Linked DNA regions of Homo sapiens. The protein of the gene in region 2 purifies or fractionates together with the protein of the main gene of each other region. This does not show direct contact. Each region holds a gene or a part of one and is shown on either strand. Other genes may lie near its edges.

The links.
Region 1: the proteins of LRRC8B (region 2) and TSPAN3 purify together in Homo sapiens (affinity purification with mass spectrometry; 2 studies listed by BioGRID and IntAct, with this or other methods). This does not show direct contact.
Region 3: the proteins of LRRC8B (region 2) and TMEM164 purify together in Homo sapiens (affinity purification with mass spectrometry; 2 studies listed by BioGRID and IntAct, with this or other methods). This does not show direct contact.

What each region holds. Positions count from the first base shown.
Region 1 is NC_000015.10:77,040,884-77,047,117, forward strand, and holds the end of TSPAN3 (tetraspanin-3), read right to left. Parts: intron 6,045-6,234; coding exon 5,952-6,044; 3' UTR 521-5,951; downstream 1-520. UniProt on the Homo sapiens protein: Regulates the proliferation and migration of oligodendrocytes, a process essential for normal myelination and repair.
Region 2 is NC_000001.11:89,520,665-89,527,838, reverse strand, and holds the start of LRRC8B (volume-regulated anion channel subunit LRRC8B), read right to left. Parts: upstream 3,011-7,174; 5' UTR 2,817-3,010; intron 878-2,816; exon of another isoform or gene 853-877; intron 1-852. UniProt on the Homo sapiens protein: Non-essential component of the volume-regulated anion channel (VRAC, also named VSOAC channel), an anion channel required to maintain a constant cell volume in response to extracellular or intracellular osmotic changes.
Region 3 is NC_000023.11:110,167,106-110,174,133, reverse strand, and holds part of TMEM164 (transmembrane protein 164), read right to left. Parts: intron 2,715-7,028; coding exon 2,614-2,714; intron 890-2,613; coding exon 683-889; 3' UTR 1-682.

The sequences.
Region 1 (6,234 bases), on a different chromosome or scaffold from region 2:
GAGACCTCACAGATCTCACAGGCACTGCAATAGAAAGCCACGTGCAACACACAAGTTATTTTCAAGAACTGCAAGGATGCACCCAAAAAGCAGGTGCTGTTACACACCAACAACCACCAACTCGGAAATAAGTTAGGAAAACCATTGCATTCACAATAGCTACAGACATTAAGCTTCACAGAAAAGTTTCCTAAGTAAACTCTGTTAAGATCCGAAAGAAAAAAACCCAATAACCAATCAAACCGGGCAGAGGACAGAAGCAAAATTCAGAAGATACAAATGGCTGAAACACCTTTAAAAGCATCCTGGCCCTAGCTAACAGTCAAATAAACACATATTTTCATCTCTCAGAATGGAAGAAAAGATGAAGGCTGATCACACCAAAAGTGTCAACAAGGGTGTAAAGAAATGCACATTTCATTCACTGCTGGTGGGAATAGAAATTGATATAAGCTTTCTGGAGAGCAACCAGATGTATCCATGAAAATGTTTAAACGTGACTTTTTTTTTTTTTTTTTTTGAGACAGAGTCTTGCTCTGTCACCCAGGCTGGAGTGCAGTGGCATAATCTCGGCTCACTGCAACCTCTGCCTCCCGGTTCAAGCGATTCTCCTGCCTCAGCCTCCCAAGTAGCTGGGATTACAGGTGCATGCCACCAGGCCCTGCTAATTTTTTGTATTTTTAATAGAGATGGGTTTCACCATGTTGGCCAGGCTGGTTTTGAACTCCTGATCTCAAGTGACCCACCTGTCTCGACCTCCCAAAGTGCTATGATTACAGGCATGAGCCACTGCACCCAGCCAAACATGACTTTTCCATCCAGAGTAAATCCAACTAACAAGAATCCACCCTTGGAGTTCATGTAAAAATACATGACACAGGGTGATGAAAGTGCTTTGAAACTAGATACAGGCAGTGGTTCTATAGCATGGTGAATGTACTCAAGGCAACTTCTTTACTTTAAAATCGTTAATTTTATGCCATGTGAATTGCATCTCAATAAAAATTGTTTTCATTTTAAAAATTGTAAATGACTGCAGTGTGTGTATAGAGATGATCACTGTGGCGAGTAGTGGAGGCACTGGAGGCAGCCTGCAGGCCTGCCCTTTATACACCTTGGTTAATCATGGTACTAATGTACCCACACAGCTAACACAATGGAATGACAAATCCTACAGTTAGACATGGAAGGAGCATCAGACTATGTTGTGAAGACAGAAAGAGGATCTTGTAGGATAAAATTCCTATTAGCAAAAAGCAAAAACCAAAACCCAATACCAAGTCTGTTTCTGTGTATGTAGTCTGCAAAGACACATGCCATTGCTGAACTGCTGAACTTGCTTCCCTGTGGGTACTTCTTTACAGATGTCTGTATTGTTCACATTTTTTAAAGCACCAATTACTTTTGTTTAAAAAAATACACTTAAAAAAGGCAGTAAGACAAGCTCTGTCAATCATCTATAGGACAAGAAGCAAAGACACCCCAGCTGCAATAAGCACACCTAGTGCCAGGGACCAGGGCTCCTGGGACAAACACTGATCCATGGCTGGTGCCCAGGGGCCTGGAACATCTTGTTAGATCAGAAATTAGGGGAGTGCTTCCAAAAATGCTGGGATATAGGAGGCACTCGAAGGGGCTCTCGCTGGCCAAGTCGGGAACTATCTGAGGAACTCTTCCCCCATCCCCAAAGGTCAATGATGAAGTCGACTTTTGAAAAAATGGGAATCCATAGTGGATATATGAAAATAAATGAAGGAGAAGGGAGGGATGACTGGCAAATGAGGAAGGAGTGCTGGGCTGCAGAAACGTCGCTTGGCAGTCATCATAAAGATTGAATCAGGCCAGAATCAGCAACATTTGCTGAACCTGGTCGGGGAATGGGGAAGAGTCTCATGAGGAACAGGGTATGTACATGGAGACAGTGTGTCTCCAGAGATTTCTTATTAGTTGAAAAGAAAAAAACAGTAACCATGCTATGGAGAAAGTGGACACACCTCGACTAGGTGTGCCAGGTACTCATTTATTGCCTCTTAACTCCAAATTTCCCTGACCTTGCCCTTCCTTGTCACACTGAAGAGGGGGCTCTGAAAACTCCTTTACCCTTTGCCAGCCTGACCCACAGTGGGCTCTGAAGGGGCTAACAAGGCTAGAGGAGGAAGATGGCCTTTTTCTTCTGTCTCCTTTCGTCCTGCACGGGTCCCAGCAGCATTCCCCACCGTGACAGCTCTCTGCTCCTGTGGCTTGGCGGGGGGGCACCTCCAGTAAGTTGATTCTCCAGCATGGGACAGGCAGCATATCCCAGGCAACCACAGCCACCCCTCGGAGGTCTCTCCACCTTGGGGAACCTCCTCTGAGTTTCCACGTTCCTTCTCTGTTTTCTCTTCCCTTAGCCCTAGGGGTGATGGCTGTTCTCTGCTAAGCTGCTTTAGAGCTCTTTTTTATCCCTTTTAGTAGTTAACTACCTTCTACACAGTTAACAATTACTTATATTAAAACCTTCCTGTTCACATTTCCTCCTCCTTGGACTAGATGATCAAAACGAACATCCCCACTGTGGGGCAGATGGGCATTGTGTGCCTCGAGATGCGATGCCCTGAGAGGCCGCGTGACGCAGGTAGTGGTTCAGCCACCTGGAATGCAAAACCAAATCTAATCACGAGGAAATCGCAGACAAACACAGATAAGCAGCACCACCTAAAACGAACTGTATCCTTACAAACTGTTCCTATCATCACAGACAAAGCTATGGAAATGATCCAGATTAAAGAAGACCAAGGAGACATGACAACTCAACTGATTACCTGATCCAGACCAGATCCAGCACCGCAGAGGGAAAGGTGCTATAGAGGACACGATGCGGCCAATGGGAATATGAGTGGTGAGGTATTCTATCAGTGTTAGATGGACGGAATTTGACAACTGTACTGCAGTCGTCAGAGAGTATCTTCTTCTTGGTAAGTACCCACTGAGGTATTAGGGGTAAAAGGCCATGACAGGTGTGGAGGCAGCAGGAGGGAGGGAGAGGGAGAGACAGGGGGTTGGCGCAAGGGAGAGAGAACGCACACACATTTGAGAACACACATGACAGATAGAATGGGACGAAATGTTAATAGGTGTATCTGGGCAAAGGATATTTGAGCCTCATTTGTACAGTTTTTATTCTTGCAACTTTTCTGTAGCTTTGAAATCATTTCCAAGTAAAATTAACTTTTTTAAAAGAGGCCATACAATATAGCAGTGGTCCTCAACCAGGGCTGTGTCCTGGACACACCCTAGAGCACCTTAGATGCTCTGGGACCCAGGCATCTGTAGTTCTCAAAGTGCCCCGGTGCTTCCAATGTGCAGCCACGGGCAGGAAACACCAGCCTAGTGGGTGAGCTCACTCACTAAATTTCAGACATGACGAGCAGTGCTTTTGCTCTCTGAAGAACAAGCACTGGGTAATGCCAACACCTAGCCTCAGCTACACGGGGGAAGGGCAGAAACAAGATGTTGAATTTGCATGGCCCTGGCCAACACAGACAACATCCCCTTCTAGTGGTTCCCAGGCAAGAGAAAAAGGCATTTCCAGGACAACTGTGCCAGGAATTAAACACAAGTTAAAACTGGCAGGAGCTGGAATGGTTTCCCAGACCTCAGAGCTACCTCCCCACCTCCATCTTTTTGGTCTCACTGGTAATATGGCCAGTCTGGGTCCAGCTGGCAGAGCACACGGGAGGAGGCTGCTCTCTCACCAGGCAAACTGAGGACTGAGTACAGGAAGGGTGTGGAGAATTATCCTCTTGGGCAAGTTGAAGAACAAGGCTACTGCTTGGCATATTTCCCAAAGCCATTTCCCACTCTAGAGGCCCTGTTCTGTCCTGTAGAAAGAGTGGAGAACAACCAACATCACAGTCCAAATATTGCTCACCTCAGGGCCAGCCTGTGACAGGGTACCCACAGGATGGTTCATATTGAAAACTGGGGGGACCATGCTCGGGGGAGGTGGTGGTAGTGAAAGGTCACAAACATTCTTGCCCACTGTGCAACAGGCAGGGGCAAGAGGTGGGATGGGTCAGTAGTCACATGATAAATCCCCCGGGGCCTCTGAAATCACATTCTGGTAACTTCCACTTTGTGAAAAGGAGTTAGTTTTTACTCCTCTCCTTTCCCGTGTCTTCTCCATTTTCAGGTGGGACAGATCTGCATGATATTTGGGCATCTCAAAACTGACGAGCCCAAAACTGACCATGAGTCACACCCCCAGATGTGTTCTCTAACTACTCCCTAGCTCTGTGACTTTGTTTCCCCAGTTGACTGAGCCAGAAACCTGGGACTCATCCTAGATGAGTCTTCTCTTCTCCCTTCTCTGTCCCACGTCCAATCAATGATCGAATTCCACCACTGTCCTGCCTCCAAACAGCCAGAATCCACCGCTCACCACCGCCCCCAACAGTGCCCTGCTGCCCACTGCTAAGCTCTCTCAACTGCTATGCCAGCCTAACTGAAGCCCAGTCACACCAATTCATCCTGGCTTCAGCACGGCCGGCTTGCATCACCACCTTCTTCTCAGTTCACCTTCCAAATCAAACCTCCAAAGAGCTGCTTCCACCTACAAGTCAGCTCTCACCTCCACAGGATGTTCCGTAAGACACTAGAGGGCCTGGGCTTTCCTGCTTCTCCAACTTCTTTCCCCAGCCTTGTATTTTAAGCTCCCTGCACACACAATTTTGTTTCACACTCTTGTGTACCATCTTTCAACAAAGCCTATCCAGCCTCCAAGCTTGGGCATCTCCTCCAGGAAGTCACCCCTGACCTCTCCGGAACTCCCCTTTGGACTCCCATTCTATTACTACAACCACTGCAGTGTGAAAATTATCTTCTCCTATGTATGTCTCCTATACTAGGACTCCGAACTCCTTGAAGACAAGGACAGTATCGCCACTGTATCCCCAGTGCATTGCACAAAGTAGAGCTCTATATTTCTAGGATATACTGGACTGAAAGCATCTGTGGTTTTTTGAATATCAAGCCCTTTAGAATCTGGCAACAGCTATAACGAAAACACACGTAAACCATGATGAACTATAGACAGCACCAACAAAGAAAACATGATACTGCTGCTCTGGAACTGAAATATCCCCCAAATAATGAAAAATAATATGTTGGGGGCTGATACAGAGTTTATTGAATTAGATTTTTCTATTTACAACTGAGATCACATCTACATACTATTTTGCTAGTCTACATGGGTACATTATTTCCAACAAGCTTAAGACTTACCATGAATGGGCTCATTCATACAAAAACACACTCACACTAATTCTTTTAAAACAGTAGTGCATACATTATACTCCTCCTATAAAGCCAACTTTGATTAAAAACCACTAGTTTCAAAGCTCAGTCTCTGATTTTGAAGATGAACCAAGATATACGCCATATGATCCTACAATCTATTTTAGTCATTTTGTACAGCTGCTATCTTATTGGACTACAGTAAATATTTTTTAAAAGGACACCAATGAGGGGCACCATCTGGTGTTAACCTTAACCAGAAAGCTGGTTTCCTCCTCCTCCCCGCAAAAACCTTTGGCCAAGAGTTCTCCACTGTGAAGACTGAAAGGACCTGGTGACATTTCGGCATCAGTCCTGTTACCACTTGGAGGTAACAGAAGCAGGCTCGTGTCCTCCTTTAATTCTACCACACTACATGACTCGCAATTGGTTCTGAAATTAGAACGTTCACCATCGTACTTAAAATCTTAGGGGCATGAAGAGTCAGCTAGAACAAGGAAAAAGAAAGTCGCAGGTAGTAGGTAAGTAGGTGGGCACATGAAAAGCCAAGCTGCTCTGTCCAACACCAGTGTACATGTGCTTTAACTAAATGAACTCCAGAGGCCAACAGCAGCAGACCTGCTCAATTCACCTTCCAAATCAGAACAAGACCAAAAAGCTCAGGCTTGAGTTGTCAACTATGCATAGGTTCCGCCAGTGATGAGGAGCTCGTAAGCAGGATCTCTACTCCTTCTGCACAACACGATGCAAGCACACAGCATGCCCAGCAGCTGTTGAAAGAAAACAACAATGGGGAAAAAAGGCTGAAAACCCTCTCATGGCAGGTGTGTATTTCTTTGTTGGTAAAAGAGCTGTTTCAAAGTTCAATGACTTCAAATCATCAAAAAGGCAGTAACAACAGTGATAGAAGGAATTTCTTATGAGTACATTATTTTTTAAGGAACTAAGTCCTAAGCTTCA
Region 2 (7,174 bases):
AAATGAACCACAGTGATAAGAACTTAGGAGAGAGATCAGTGATTGGAGCTAGGCCTAATTTTACTTAAGATCAACCTTAATGATCAGAAAAAGAAAAATAGGTTATTATGTCTGCCAAAGGCATTATTTTAAACACCAGAGAAATTAAGTCATAATAAAGGCATGTAGGAAGTTTAGAAAATACAGATGGGGAATAAAATGAAAGTAGGCAATAGCAATAAAAGGCAGCAATATGAAAACAGATATGACACAAATTAGAAGGTATTTTACAAATGGTTAAATAAATTCTACACTATAACTGGGTCTCCCAAATTCCTCTTGAATGGTCACAGGTCTGAACTGTTTGCTGATGTACCCAGTGCTCTGGGAGTCAGGATAGCAGTGGAGAACCTGCTCCATGCAAGGCAATGCAAATCATGCCACCAAGTGTGTAATAACATGACAGAATCAGAATGCATTCATTTCTAATAATATCAGGGTGTGGTAGAAGGATGCTGGGAAGGAGAAATAAGAGTAAAATTAGAGAATTCAACTTTAGAGACACCAAATGAAAATCCGGGATTGGGTTAAACAGGCTATGAATAGTAAAAAGTCCAGAAAACATAAAATACTCAGGTACTATTAGAAGAATTTGAAAACTAAAATACAAAAACAAAAACCCTTGTTTATAAGAAAAACATTGGCTAAAACAAGGATGTTCTAAATTGTAAAATATTTTTCCCCTTAAACTTCAGAAAACAACAAAAAATAACAAATTTCAGGCCACTACAGGAAAATACATGGATTAGTCTAAAAAACTTGGAAGGCTTAGTATCCTTTAAGTTTTATTAAGCCCCTTTTCATTTTACTTACTGTTGGTGTTTTCACTCTGAGGATTCTGAAAATTAAAATAGCAATGGGAAATGGTGATAGTGGTAGAGAAGAGGTTTAAAAAAGCAAATCTCAACTAGTCAAATGAAATCATTCAAAATGTGAAAAGATTCATAATAGGCTGAACATGTTGGAACACCTTACCAATTGAGGAAAAAGAGAACACATTTCAAAGAATGGTAAACTTAATTCCGACATGCAGATTTAAAAATGTTGTTGGGGATACTAAGTATAAGGAAAGTGCCATGACCCAAGGGTGCACTCAATGACAACATCACCCCCATTCAAGAGACCTCTTTTTAGCTTACAGAAATATCAGACATGTTAGGGCTTATATTCTAAAATTACACAGGCCCAATTACCTTGGGGGTTGGCTGTCACTTTATATTCTCTGAGTAGAGCTGCTGACAAGGAAAGCCAGGAGAAAAAGAAAGTCACCTCGGCACCCACAATTCAGAGAGCATTTGGGGTCACACCTGTAATCCCAGCACTTTGGGAGGCCGAGGTGGGTGGGTCACTTGAGGTCAGGAGTTTCAGACCAGCCTGGCCAACATGGTGAAACCCCGCCACCACTAAAAATATAAAAATTAGCTGGGCGTGGTGGCGGGCCCCTGTAGTCCCCGCTACTCGGGAGGCTGAGGCAGGAGAATCACTTGAACCCAGGAGGTGGAGGTTGCAGTGAGCCGAGATCGCACTACTGCACTCCAGCCTGGGCGACAGAGTGAGACTCCGTCTCAAAACAAAACAAAGAAACAAAACAAAGAGCATTTGGGGTTCTCAGGAGGTGTAGCCTGTACACATAGAGGGTACTGGAATTGTTTAAAAAATTACACTGCAGTTTGACTTCTTTTCCATCCTCACTCCTACACCTAGGTTTAGGGGACAGAACCATCTGATAAAGATAAATCTGTTTTAAGATTTCTGGGGTGTTCTGCAAAGACTACTATATCATTTGCAAATAGGTTGTCTTTTAATAAAAATCATGCTACGTAATGTCTTCTTAATATACGCTGAACAAATTGCCTGTTTTAATTTGGCTATATATCTACAATTTAAAATGTTCATACTGTTATCTTTTACCAGTGGAGTGTTTTTTTGTTTGTTTGTTTGAAGTCTTTAGGCGAAGTGAATTTATTCAAGGAAGTTCACATGTCGGTTTTGTTCTTTTAGAGGGGTGTCTTTTTGACCACAAAGAAAAAAAAAGTTTTCCACAAATGTCATCTAACTAAAGGCAATCTATGGACTTTAGGAAGTCAGTTGAGCACACAGATTAATGAGCCAATACTGAGCCTCCTCCCTTCTGACCTCTCAGCACCTGCTCAACTAAGCTCAGGGGAAACTCTTGAGTCTTCTTCTTAAATTGGTAACGCTTGCCCTTTCTTTCTCAAACAAATCAACGCCCAACACCACCACCAAATTATAGGCAACCAACGCGTATCCAACAGCATAAAATAGTTCCCAAGAGCATAAAATAGTTCCCAACAGCGCCAGCGCAGGGGGCAAAACAGAGCGACCAAATGGGGGCACCCTCAGGGGAGTTGCGCTCATCTGGAGCGAGACGCCAGCCTGGGAAAGCGGAACCCCTTTCCCGCCCCGCCCCGAGGACTCACGCTCAGGTGCAACGCCGAGACTCCCGGGGGAAAGAGAGGTGACCGTCTCGGCGCGACCGCCCACACCTCTTGCTCCAAATGACCCCAGCACACAGGAGAGGTCCTCTCAGCGTGGGACTCCGTCTCTCCCGAAGGCAGGGAGCACAACGAAGCGGCCACTCGTCTCTGCAGCCGCGCTACCGGCCCGCAGCCTGGCTCGCAGGTGAGGCGTGAACAGGTAACCGCACCTGTTCGGCCAGCCCCACCTGCTGCGTCCCCGTATCCGGTCCTCCTCCTCCACCACCTCGGTCGGCGCGGCTCGCCCTCCTGGAACCGGGGTGTCACGCTCCGACCTACCTGCGCGACTCCAGCCCCGGACGCCCGCGCTCCCCGCGGCGTGCTCCTGGGCCGCTCCGGGCGGGCAGGCTGCGGCCCCGCGCCCGCACTTTCCCGGCTGCCGGAGGCTGCGGGCTCAGCGGGAAGCCCCGGCGCTGTCCGGCTCGCCGCCTCCGACCGGCTCCATTGTGACGCGACGCGTTCCGCTGGCCAATGGGCGCTCGGCGGCGCGAACCGCTGACTAAGTTCGCGGGTGGAGGAGGAGGGGACGGGGCGGAGGCAGGGCGCGGAGGCGGCTACCACGGTGGTGGCGGTAGCAGTGGCGGAGGAGGAGGAGGAGGAGGAAGAGGAGGAAGAGGCTGCAGTCGCTTCGGTAGCTGCTCCTGCTGTGAATTTTTCAGCTGCCTGGGCCTGAGTGTTTGCCCAGCTCTGGGGCTGCGGGAGCCAGTGACTCACCTATCACTGCTGGAAACAAAGCGCAGCTGCCATCTCCCCGAGCGCGCCATGTGGCCATCGCTGCCCCCTCGCCCAGCCTGGGGTCCGCAGGAGGTAGCGCACAGCCATACGCCCCGCGGAGCAGCTGGAAAGAGCGGGGACTGCTTTCCAGAAGCGGGAGGGAAATGGGCTTCGGCGTGTCCCCCAGGCGCGCCACACCGGTGACTTCGGCACTACACCGCGTGTGTCGGGCCCCAGCCTTCTCACGTGTGCGTCCCTGAGTAACTTGGCATTTATATAACGCGTGTTGGGCCCTGAGGGAAAGGTCGGGTGCAGCACGCGGGAACCTCCTCTTCGAAAAGGAAGTCCCCTTACTTTTCTTTACCCTGCTTAGAAAGATTGCAGGGCCCAGCCTCTGTGAGGGAGGGTTTACAGTTGTACCAACTAAGCGGCTTAAGTTCGATTCTGGCCTTCCAATACCATTGGCTTCTCTCAAATGTCGTTATCCTCAGGATAGGGAGGGGACCACATGGCCGAGGGGCGGTCCCTATACTCATAACCTGCCTTTCACTGCGATTCAACTGCAGAGACACCTCAACTACTGCCCGCTTGCTTCTCTCCCAAGTGGCACTGCATTTGAAGGCCAACAATATTCCTTACGAAACAGAATTAATCCAAACCCACAAATTCTAGGGACATAAATATTTTTATCATCCTCATCCATTTCCCCACTCTCACCCTTACCCCAGTTTTAACTCAGTCTCTGCCCTGGCTATTATCTTGAGCACACTGATTCAATTAGGCAAGATTTATGTCTTTTAGTTGCTATGGTGGTCACATCTCCATTTAAAAAAAGAAAGAAAAAACAAGTTTGTACCGGCATCTCCCAAAGGAATAAAATGAAGACGAACAGACTCAGCATTTGGGGCATCTGAGCAGTTTGTGTAAATGGGAGTATAGCAAATGCCCTATCGAGTTAATATGAGACAAGAGTTGTGTCTCAGACTGTTCAGATGAGGACTACAATTTGAGTCACCCTGAAAGGGAAAAAGAAGGCTGTCTTTGTGTCACTGATCTGTTCTTTTCTTGTTCACTCAGTCCATTCTGGAACTGCAGATATCTTTTTTCTGAGTCTTGAAGGAAAAGCTGAAAGAACATTTCTTCACTTGGTCATTCGATAAATTTTTATTGAGTTTATATGTGTGAGACACTGGGTATGCACAGATCTACAAGTCTAATTTAAATTTAGGTTTGATCCTTACAGGAGTATCTGAAATTCTCTCAGGGACTTTCTGATTAATTATTTTTGGTAGAAGAAAATTCTAAAAGACTCTGTCACTACTTTCACAGCCAGATTTACCCAAGTCTAAAATAGTGATTAAAAATTCCATCATGGATTTTAAGCACCAAAAAAATGACAGGCAGGTCTCAATCGTTTTAGAGGTTTATTTTGCCAAGGTTAAGGACATTCCCCAGGAGAAAGCACAAATACAGGAACATCTGTGATCTGTGCCTTTTGCAAAGAGAGTTTTTGAGGACTTCAGTATTTAAAGGGGAAAGAGCCAGCAGGAGGGGAAGGAGAAAAGAAAGAAAAAAAAGGGAAATGGGAAGGTAGGCAATGAGGGAAGAAGTTACATTCTTGTGAGGCTTTGATTAGTGCCCAGTGAATTCACATTTTGCGTGTGAAGAGTGGGTAGAGGAATACTGATTATGTGTTCCTCTCATGCTCAGTAAATCTACATTTTACATAAGATAAATGTGAAAATAGGGGGAAAGTCAATTATGAATTTGTCTTGGGGTGGGCAGAGGGATGATTTCCAAGTCTTGTCCTTATACCATACATATGAAGATGAGCTGTTATTGTCAGAGTGAGATTCAACAGAACTGTGTTTTAGGGCTCATTTATAGGAGGGATATGCATTCTGAAAGATTTAGGGACCCACAAGGCATTTCACTGTAAGCAATTTGTGAGGGAGGCTATCTGGGGAGATATGTGGCCTTCTATTGTTGCAGCTACCTGGTAACAACAGAAGGCAGGTTTTTAAAATTTTTTTATTTTTTATTTTATTATACTTTAAGTTTTAGGGTACATGTGCACAACGTGCAGGTTAGTTATTTATGTATACATGTGCCATGTTGGTGTGCTGCACCCAGTAACTCGTCATTTAACATTAGATATATCTCCAAATGCTATCTCTTCCCCCTCCCCCCACCCCACAACAGGCCGTGGTGTGCGATGTTCCCTTTCCTGTGTCTGTGTGTTCTCATTGTTCAAGTCCCACCTATGAGTGAGAACATGCGGTGTTTGGTTTTTTGTCCTTGCTATAGTTTGCTGAGAGTGATGGTTTCCAGCTTCATCCATGTCCCTACAAAGGACATGAACTCATCCTTTTTATGGCTGCATAGTATTCCATCGTGTATATGTGCCACATTGTTGGACATTTGGGTTGGTTCCAAGTCTTTGCTATTGTGAATAGTGCTGCAATAAACATACGTGTGCATGTGTCTTTATAGCGGCATGATTTATAATCCTTTGGGTATATACCCAGTAATGGGATGGCTGGGTCAAATGGTATTTCTAGTTCTAGATCCCTGAGGAATCGCCACACTGACTTCCACAATGGTTGAACTAGTTTACAGTCCCACCAACAGTGTATAAGTGTTCCTGTTTCTCCACATCCTCTCCAGCACTTGTTGTTTCCTGACTTTTTAATGATCGCCATTCTAACTGGTGTGAGATGGTATCTCATTGTGGTTTTGATTTGCATTTCTCTCATGGCCAGTGATGATGAGCATTTTTTCATGTGTCTTTTGGCTGCATAAATGTCTTCTTTTGAGAAGTGTCTGTTCATGTCCTTTACCCACTTTTTGATGGGGTTGTTTGTTTTTTTCTTGTAAATTTGAGTTCATTGTAGATTCTGGATATTAGCCCTTTGTCAGATGAGTAGATTGCAAAAATTTTCTGCCAATCTGTAGGTTGCCTGTTCACTCTGATGGTAGTTTCTTTTGCTGTGCAGAAGCTCTTTAGTTTAATTAGATCCCATTTGTCAATTTTGGCTTTTGTTGCCATTGCTTTTGGTGTTTTAGACATGAAGTCCTTGCCCATGCCTATGTCCTGAGTGGTATTGCCTAGCTTTTCTTCTAGGGTTTTTGTGGTTTTAGGTCTAACATTTAAGTCTTTAATCCATCTTGAATTAATTTTTGTATAAGGTGCAAGGAAGGGATCCAGTTTCAGCTTTCTACATATGGCTAGCCAGTTTTCCCAGCACCATTTATTAAATAGGGAATCGTTTCCCCTCTTTTCTTGTTTTTGTCAGGTTTATCAAAGATCAGATGGTTGTAGATATGTGGCATTATTTCTGAGGGCTCTGTTCTGTTCCATTGATCTATATCTCTGTTTTGGTACCAGTACCATGCTGTTTTGGTTACTGTAGCCTTGTAGTATAGTTTGAAGTCAGGTAGCATGATGCTTCCAGCTTTGTTCTTTTGGCTTAGGATTGACTTGGCAATGTGGGCTCTTTTTTGGTTCCATATGAACTTTAAAGTAGTTTTTTCCAATAACAGAAAGCAGTTTTTTTAGTGACTCAGTTCCCAAGCTTAGCTTTTCTTTTGGCTTAGTCAGTTTGGGGTCCAGAGATTCCATTTTTGTTTCACAGCACTTATTTTGTGCCTAGCAGTGTGCTAGACATCATGGGTGATACCAAAGAAGCATAAAACTTGGTCCCTGACCCCAGCAGCCCACAACTTAGTTGAACACGGAAAACAATCAAGGGCATCTTCTGCTCAAAGGAAATGAAGATTGAATAACATGGGTGGAAGTAGTCAGAAAATGCATTATGGAGAGAAGGGAACTTAAACTTTTGAAACAGAAGCAGGATTTAGAAGGACTACATCCTTTACCTTTGCCTTATTGGCCCTAAACTTTATCTTAAAATAACCAGTCC
Region 3 (7,028 bases), on a different chromosome or scaffold from region 2:
ATAGATCTCCAACCCTCTCAATGGAATCTAGCCCTTGGGCTGGGTGGTGCTCTCACCTCCCACCCCAGGCAGCATCCTGGAGGGAGTGGCTGGTTGGCTGTTTACTTTGAGTCATGGGACACCAGTGACCAGAATCTGGCTGGTTCTGTCTTGACCACGAGCTGTGAAATCCCTCGGCTCTGGGCTTGCCGCTGGTATAGAAACAAGGCCTCAGTCCCCCGTGGTAAGGGCTGTGCTGGAGACTAAATGGGACGCCAGCATAAGCCTGGAGGTCCCTGGCAGTGGAGAAATGAAACACAACCCAATCTCATTGCTTCGATGCCAAAAGAACTACTACTTGTTGTTCCCTTTCTCCTCAACCAGCTGTTGTTAAAGCACCGACAAGCAGAGTGAAAGAGCCGCTCACTGCAATCTCCCCATGTAAGGCCACTAGGAGCAGAGAGAGAGCCAAAGGGAAGGAGGAAAATCCAGCGCCCAGCACTACACCCCAGGCTCAAGGAGACATCGTAGGGGGAAGAGCTGGGAAAGGAAGAGTGGTAGAAGAAAGGGACAGAAAGGAGGAAAAAGAAATACACCAAACATCCTACTGCCCTCTCCCATGATTTTATCAAGAACTGGGTGTTCTCCAAGTCAAGTCACGACTTGCTTCCTCAGGGAGGAAAAAAAAAAAAAATAAGCACCTTCAGTCTATTTTCTTGGCTGGAAGCCGGAGCAAATCCAGCAGATATTTACACAAGGGCCCAGCCATGTATGAGAACAGGATGACCAGCTTCCCGTGGGTCATGGTCATGAGAGTCTGGTGTCCCGAGGCCCAGATGCGATACCAGGGGCCGTAGAATGGGTCTGAGATGGCCGGACACAGCATGTTGTTCAAATTCACTTCGGTGACCTGCAGGGACAAGGGAGGTAGAGTGAGCGTTCACCATCCTTAGGCTTTCTCTGGCTTCTGCCAGTTCAGCCATCTCTACCTAATGGGGGACTAGACAAGGAGGGATTGACCAATCCCCACCTGTTTATAAAGGGATTTCTTCTCTCCCCTCGGTTTTCTGAGTGAGTCAAGCTAGAGGCCTCTGGAGGTGATGGCGGAGGGCCGTCTAGTGGAAAAGCTATTCAGTTTTGCTCACGGTCTTGCCTTCTGTTTGGGCCCAGAACTTGTTGCCATTCCTGAGCATCTACTATGTGCCTAGACCCCGGAGAGGTGTTACAGGCTAAAAGTACAGCCCACAGCGTGGGCCCTGCCTCCACGTAACTGCAATCAATCAAGTGGGGGTGGTCAAAGGTTTACTACATCTGACCCCAAACCAGACAGGGCTCACCCAGCTTTATACACTATGAGGAGGTCTGAGGAGCATACAATATGGGGGCTGAGTCCTCAGAGAAGATTTCATGACAGAAGTGGTACCTGAATGGACTCATGAAAGATGGATGGGGGTTTATGGTGAGGAATGGGGTGAGGGTTGCCCTCCTTGTAGGAGGCGTTGCCTGAGCATGGTATGTAGGGTGACATGAGCACACTGATGCCTCTGGAATCTGGGTCCCAGTGGAGAGCAGCAAGTGGTAAGGGTGTGAACTTTGTACGGCTTCCTCCTGAGAGCGCAGGAAGCATTCACACTGTTGGCAAGGAGCTCAGACTAAGCCCCCAGCAAACCAGAGCAGAGCCATACACCAGAATGAGGAAGAGAAAGTGACTGCTTCTACAAAGGTGTTGGGGACATCAGTTACACGCCCTAGTCATGCTAGGTCACGCGAGGCTCCACATGGCTAATGCTACATTACTGCCACTTGCACACAAAACCAGACATGCGACACCTGCCCCGGGGACGGTCGCGGCACCTGCCTTCCAAAGCCCTTCAAGCCTGTTCACATTAAAGACAAGTCCTCACCACCTCTCAGGGAAGTTGGGGCTTTTATACCATGTCAAAGAGAGGTGGAGAACTCTCTGCCCTCAAGGGTGAGGTGACTCATTCAGAGCAGTGGCAGAGCCAGGACTTGAACTTGGGTCTCCTGACCCCCAGCCCCAGTCCTGAGCTCTTCCTACTCATTTTGCCACTGATATACACTCTTACACTCAGCAATTTTGGGCTCTGGATAACTCAGCTACTGAGTCCAACCATCCAACCATTCTTCATGACTCCAGGAAGTTCTAAACACCCCAGAATGCCACAGGATTTCCCCAACACCACACTTCACTGGCCATGAAGCTCAGGGAAGAGTGCAGCCTTCAGGGCCTATGAATGGGCCCAGGATGGACCCAAGGTCAGAAGACTCCCCCAGGCCAAGGGGCAGGGTTAGGGTCCTGCCTCCCCATGGGGTCCACAACAAACCACTTTCCAGTTGCAGCTCATTGTTTCCGACCCAAGTGGCCATGAGTGAAAGGCATCCTTGCCTCCCCAGGGATGAAAGAAACAGTCATTACTGAAAGACTCAGAAAACTCTTTGGAGAGGCCAAGGCTGTAGATCATAAATCAGCAATCCAGACACAACAATCTGACATCCTGGCCTTTAGCATCTTGCATTTTCAAAACAAAGTGATACGTCAGCACCAACCAGGATTACCAAGATTTATGGAGAACTGCAAACAGAGGGGATAGAAGGGGATATAACCAAACTTACCAGGCCGAGGATCTGCAAGACGCTGAAGTGATAAAAGAACATGAGGCCAGTTGAGAGAAGAGCCCACCGGAAACTGCTGAGGGGCTCTGGAGTGTAAGCACCTGGAGGAAGAGGGGAGATGGTGAGATGGCAGGAATAGTGACCCACTTCACCTTTGTACCATGAGGGTGCAGGTACTGAGGTCACAGCTGCTGCCTGATGACTGTTCCTTTTACTGATCACTGGCAACTACTCAAGAGACAGCCCCACTGATTAGCTGGGTACTCAACCCAGCCCCTTCCTGCCCTCTGTCCTGCCACTTATTTCTAGGGTCACTACAAAGAGAGGACTCTTTTTTTAATCATAAAAGTGGTATGTATTCATTAAAGAAAATTTTCACATGAGTTTGTCTCTTTGGTCATTTTCTCTGCCTCAGGATTTTCTTTTCTTTCTTTTCTAAATTAGTATTTGCAATCTTACTGTACACATAATTGTATACCCTTCATTCCCACATTTATTTCCTCGTGTTTCTAAAGAGAAATGTCATTGAGGAAGTATGGTGTAGTGGTTGAGAATGTTAACTATGAAGTTAGATTTGAGTTCAAATCTTGACTCTACCGCTTACGGGCCATGTGAAAAGTTGTTTAAAATCCTTGTATCTCAGTTTACTTGCCTGTAAAATGGGGACAATAGTACTACCTACTTCTTAGTGTTGAAGGAATAAATGAAACAATATACTGAGAGCTCTTAGTTCAGGGTCTGGTACAATGTAAGTGCTCAGTGAGTGTTAAATGCTGGCATTATCTTAATTATTATTCAAATAACTGAAGAATGTGCCAACTCTCCCCCAGGGATACCAAAAATGATATATTTTCCCTCTATCATTGCTAAAAAGTATCATCCCAGTAGGCCTGGATATATTCCACATCTTGGAGAATGGGGGCATGGTTTATAGGATGTTGTGGGTATCACTCTGAGTGGGAACTCAGAGTGGGGAATGCTGAAGAATGAAAGGGACCTGGAACCCCCACCCCAAGCAATTAGGGTTGACATCATATCCTAGACTATTATTTTCCCAAATCAGTCTTTCACTGATTCATCCATTCATTCAACAGTTATGAGGCACCTTGTGTATTCCAAGTCCTGTGCAAAGCTTTGAGGACAGGAAGATAAAGAAGGCAGGTTCCCTGCAACTGCAGACTCACAGTCAACAACTACAACACAGGGTAGCTGGTGGGATGACTGAGGTCTGCGCCACCTGTTATGGGAAAACAAAACTCAGCCAGGGGCACAAGGAATGCTTCTTGGTACAGCAAGTACTGGTGCAAAGCCCAGAAGGACAAATAGGACTTAAGGAGGGGCCTAGGAATTCCAAAGCACAAGCTTGCATGGAGACAGACAAGAGTGGGGCAATTCAGAGAACTATGGATAAGGGTTCCATGGGGCCACAGGGGAGAGTGTAACGGGGCAGTTAGCAGGTACTAGCCTCAGAGGTTCGCAGGGCTGGTCTGCTCCAGGCTGCGACACATAGGACACTAGAAGCCATGCTGAGGGCTTTGGGCTTCATCCCATGCACCAGGGTCATGAACTCAAATGCCCCAACTCTCAGGCAGATAATTGGAAGCAGGGGTGCGACCAGGGCCTAAGAGACACTAGGGGATGCTGGAGACTGTCAAACTGAAAAGCCCACACCCCTTCTAAAGAGGGCAACCACCACTCAGCTCCATCCAATCATTGCCCTGAAGGGATGTGCACCCAGAGTTACCAGTTCTTTTCACTTTTGCAAGAGAAGCCAATATATATGAACTTTTATGTGAAATTTCCTGATTTTCCAATGTTGGCGACTAATTCAAAATGTTTTAAGAACATTTTGGACCAAGCAAAACATGTCTTCTGAATGGATTTCAGCCCATGGGTGGCCAGCTTTGAGCTCTGCTGTAGAGTCACAGAAAGCAGAAGTTTTGAAGCAGTAAGGTGAGGTGATCACGTGTGTCTGCAAAGGATCACCCTGGCTGGTGTGCAGGGGATGGACTCAAGCAGACAGAGTCGAGGCAGGGAGGCTGGTAAGAAGATTGCTACAGGAGCCCAAAAAGAGAACAGGATGAATGGCCTTGGAAGGCAACAGCAGTGAGGCTGGAGGAGAGTGGGGGGAAAATCACCATGATGTGGAAGAAGATTGGAGAAGATTGTTGGGGAGATGGGGGTTGGTAAGGGAGAGGAAGGATCTTGGAAAACTCCCAGTGTTCTGGCTGGGGTATCACTGGGTTGATGGTGCCATTTATTGCCATGGAGAAGAGAGGAAAAGGCAGATTGGGACAGAAGGGAAATGATGAGGCCAAGTTTAGACATGAAATTGAGGTGTATGTGGAATATCCAAGTGGAAATGGGTCTTTGGCGGCTGCCTGTACTCTAGGACATATAGTGTGATGGATAAGAGCATGGGCAGTGGAGCTCAACAGGTAGAGGTTTGCAAATCCTGGCCCCATCACTTATCAACTTTGGGGCCTTGGGAAAGTCTCAGCATCTCTTGAACTCGGTTCTACTCACCTATAAAATGGGGTGGCACTGCCTAATTCACAATGTTGTTGGAGAGATGAGATGAGATAATATACCGTAATTACAGTATTGTATCTGGGATTTAGCAAATGCTGATTATTTTCATTGTTATATGAGTCACAAACTCAGTGGAGAGGATGGGGGCGAGCATGGAGATGTAGGTGTCATCAGCACACAGTGGTAACTGAAGTCATGGGAACATACGTAGAAAGAGAGAAGGAAAAGGCCAGAGGCAGAATGCCAAGGAAAACCATGTAAGGAGAGCATGTGGGCGAGAAGAGAAAGGAGACTTTCTTCAGTGACTAAAGTGGGGACCAGGGCTGGGGGCTCTTCTGTGGAAGAAGCTCAGGCTTGCTTTAGGCTCATGGCACATCTGAGTCAGAAGGCCCTTGCAGACATAGATATCATTCCCTCCATTTTATAGATGGAGAAATTCCAGGCTAGAAGATGGGCAATGTCACAGCCAAAGTCATAAGAGCGGAGCACTGGAGAAATGAACTCTCACGCACTGCCAGGGGACTCACTAGGGAGCTCAACGCTCCTGTTGCCACTTGTGAAGGCCTCCAGCACACAAGTTGGATTGTCTCTTCCCTTGTCTGTCCAACCCTCTAGACCAAGTGCATCTCAGGGTCAAGGACCATGTCAGGCCACTTCTGCATTCCTAGCATCTAGCACAGTGCTTGGTGCGTGAAAATGCACAGAGCTATGCCCTTAAGGCATGCACACATTCCTGTCTGCTGAATGAGTGTGGACTGGGCACCGTGTTGTCACCCTGGCTGCGGTGGGCATACAGGGGAAGAGGAGGCCTGGAGGACAGACAAGGGCTTAGGCTGCCACTCCTCCCACTGCTGGAGCCCCCAGTCCTGTTGTCCCGGGTGCCCCCTCCCTCCATCCTCTCTGCTCGGCGCCCCCTAGTGGCAGATGGGCAGCAGTGACTGAGCCAACAGGCGGTGGCAGGAAAGCCCGTGGGTGTTGGTGGGGGGTGTCCTCAGCCAGGAGGCAGCTCTGCAGCCAGCCCTGTTATCATGCTCCTCCCGTCTTGCCCCATGCTGCAGAGGGAAAGGAACACTCAGAGATACTACCAGGGGACACTGTTTCTCAGTGCTCTCACTGCCCCTTGCCCAAACCCCGACTTTAGTAGCATTCATTCTGTGCTGCATCATCCATCCCATACCAGACTGTTAGTTCTCTGAGAGAGGGGCTGTTTCTGAATTACCTCTTCACGTCCAGCACCTGGTACACAGTGGGCACTCCAAAAGTAATCACTGCTTGGGTGAATGAATGGTATAGACTTTCTGGAGAATCATAAAATTATAACTCTTTGCCTCAAAAATACTACTTTGCGGACCACCATCAAATACCTAAAAACTCCAACAAACCACCCTAATTTGCGCAAAGATATTTACACCTGCACTATCTATAATACTGAGAAACTGGAAACAAACCAAGTGGGGAGATAGTTACATAAACTATGGTACCTCAACATTGTGCAACAGAGTCCACTACCATTCAAATGACAGCCAAACTATGTATCTGTCTATGGCTGGTAATGGCAAGGACAAAAGACAAAACACCAGGCAGTACACAAATGGCAGAAAATACAGCTTAGTAGTTTAAAAACAAAGGCCTTGGGGCCATGTAGCCTTGGGTTTGAATCATGGCTCTGCCACTACCCATAGGAGTGACCTTGGGCAAATTGTGCTGCCCCTCTAAGCCTGTTTTCCTGCTGGTGGGCTGAGGGTAACATCTACCTCTAAGGGCTGGTGAGTGGAAAAAGAGAGATAAAAGTATATACGACAGCTATCCTGGCATGCAGATGGCTGCTGCTATTTTTTATCATGGCGACCACAACCATCCAAAATCTTATAAAAGACTAGAAG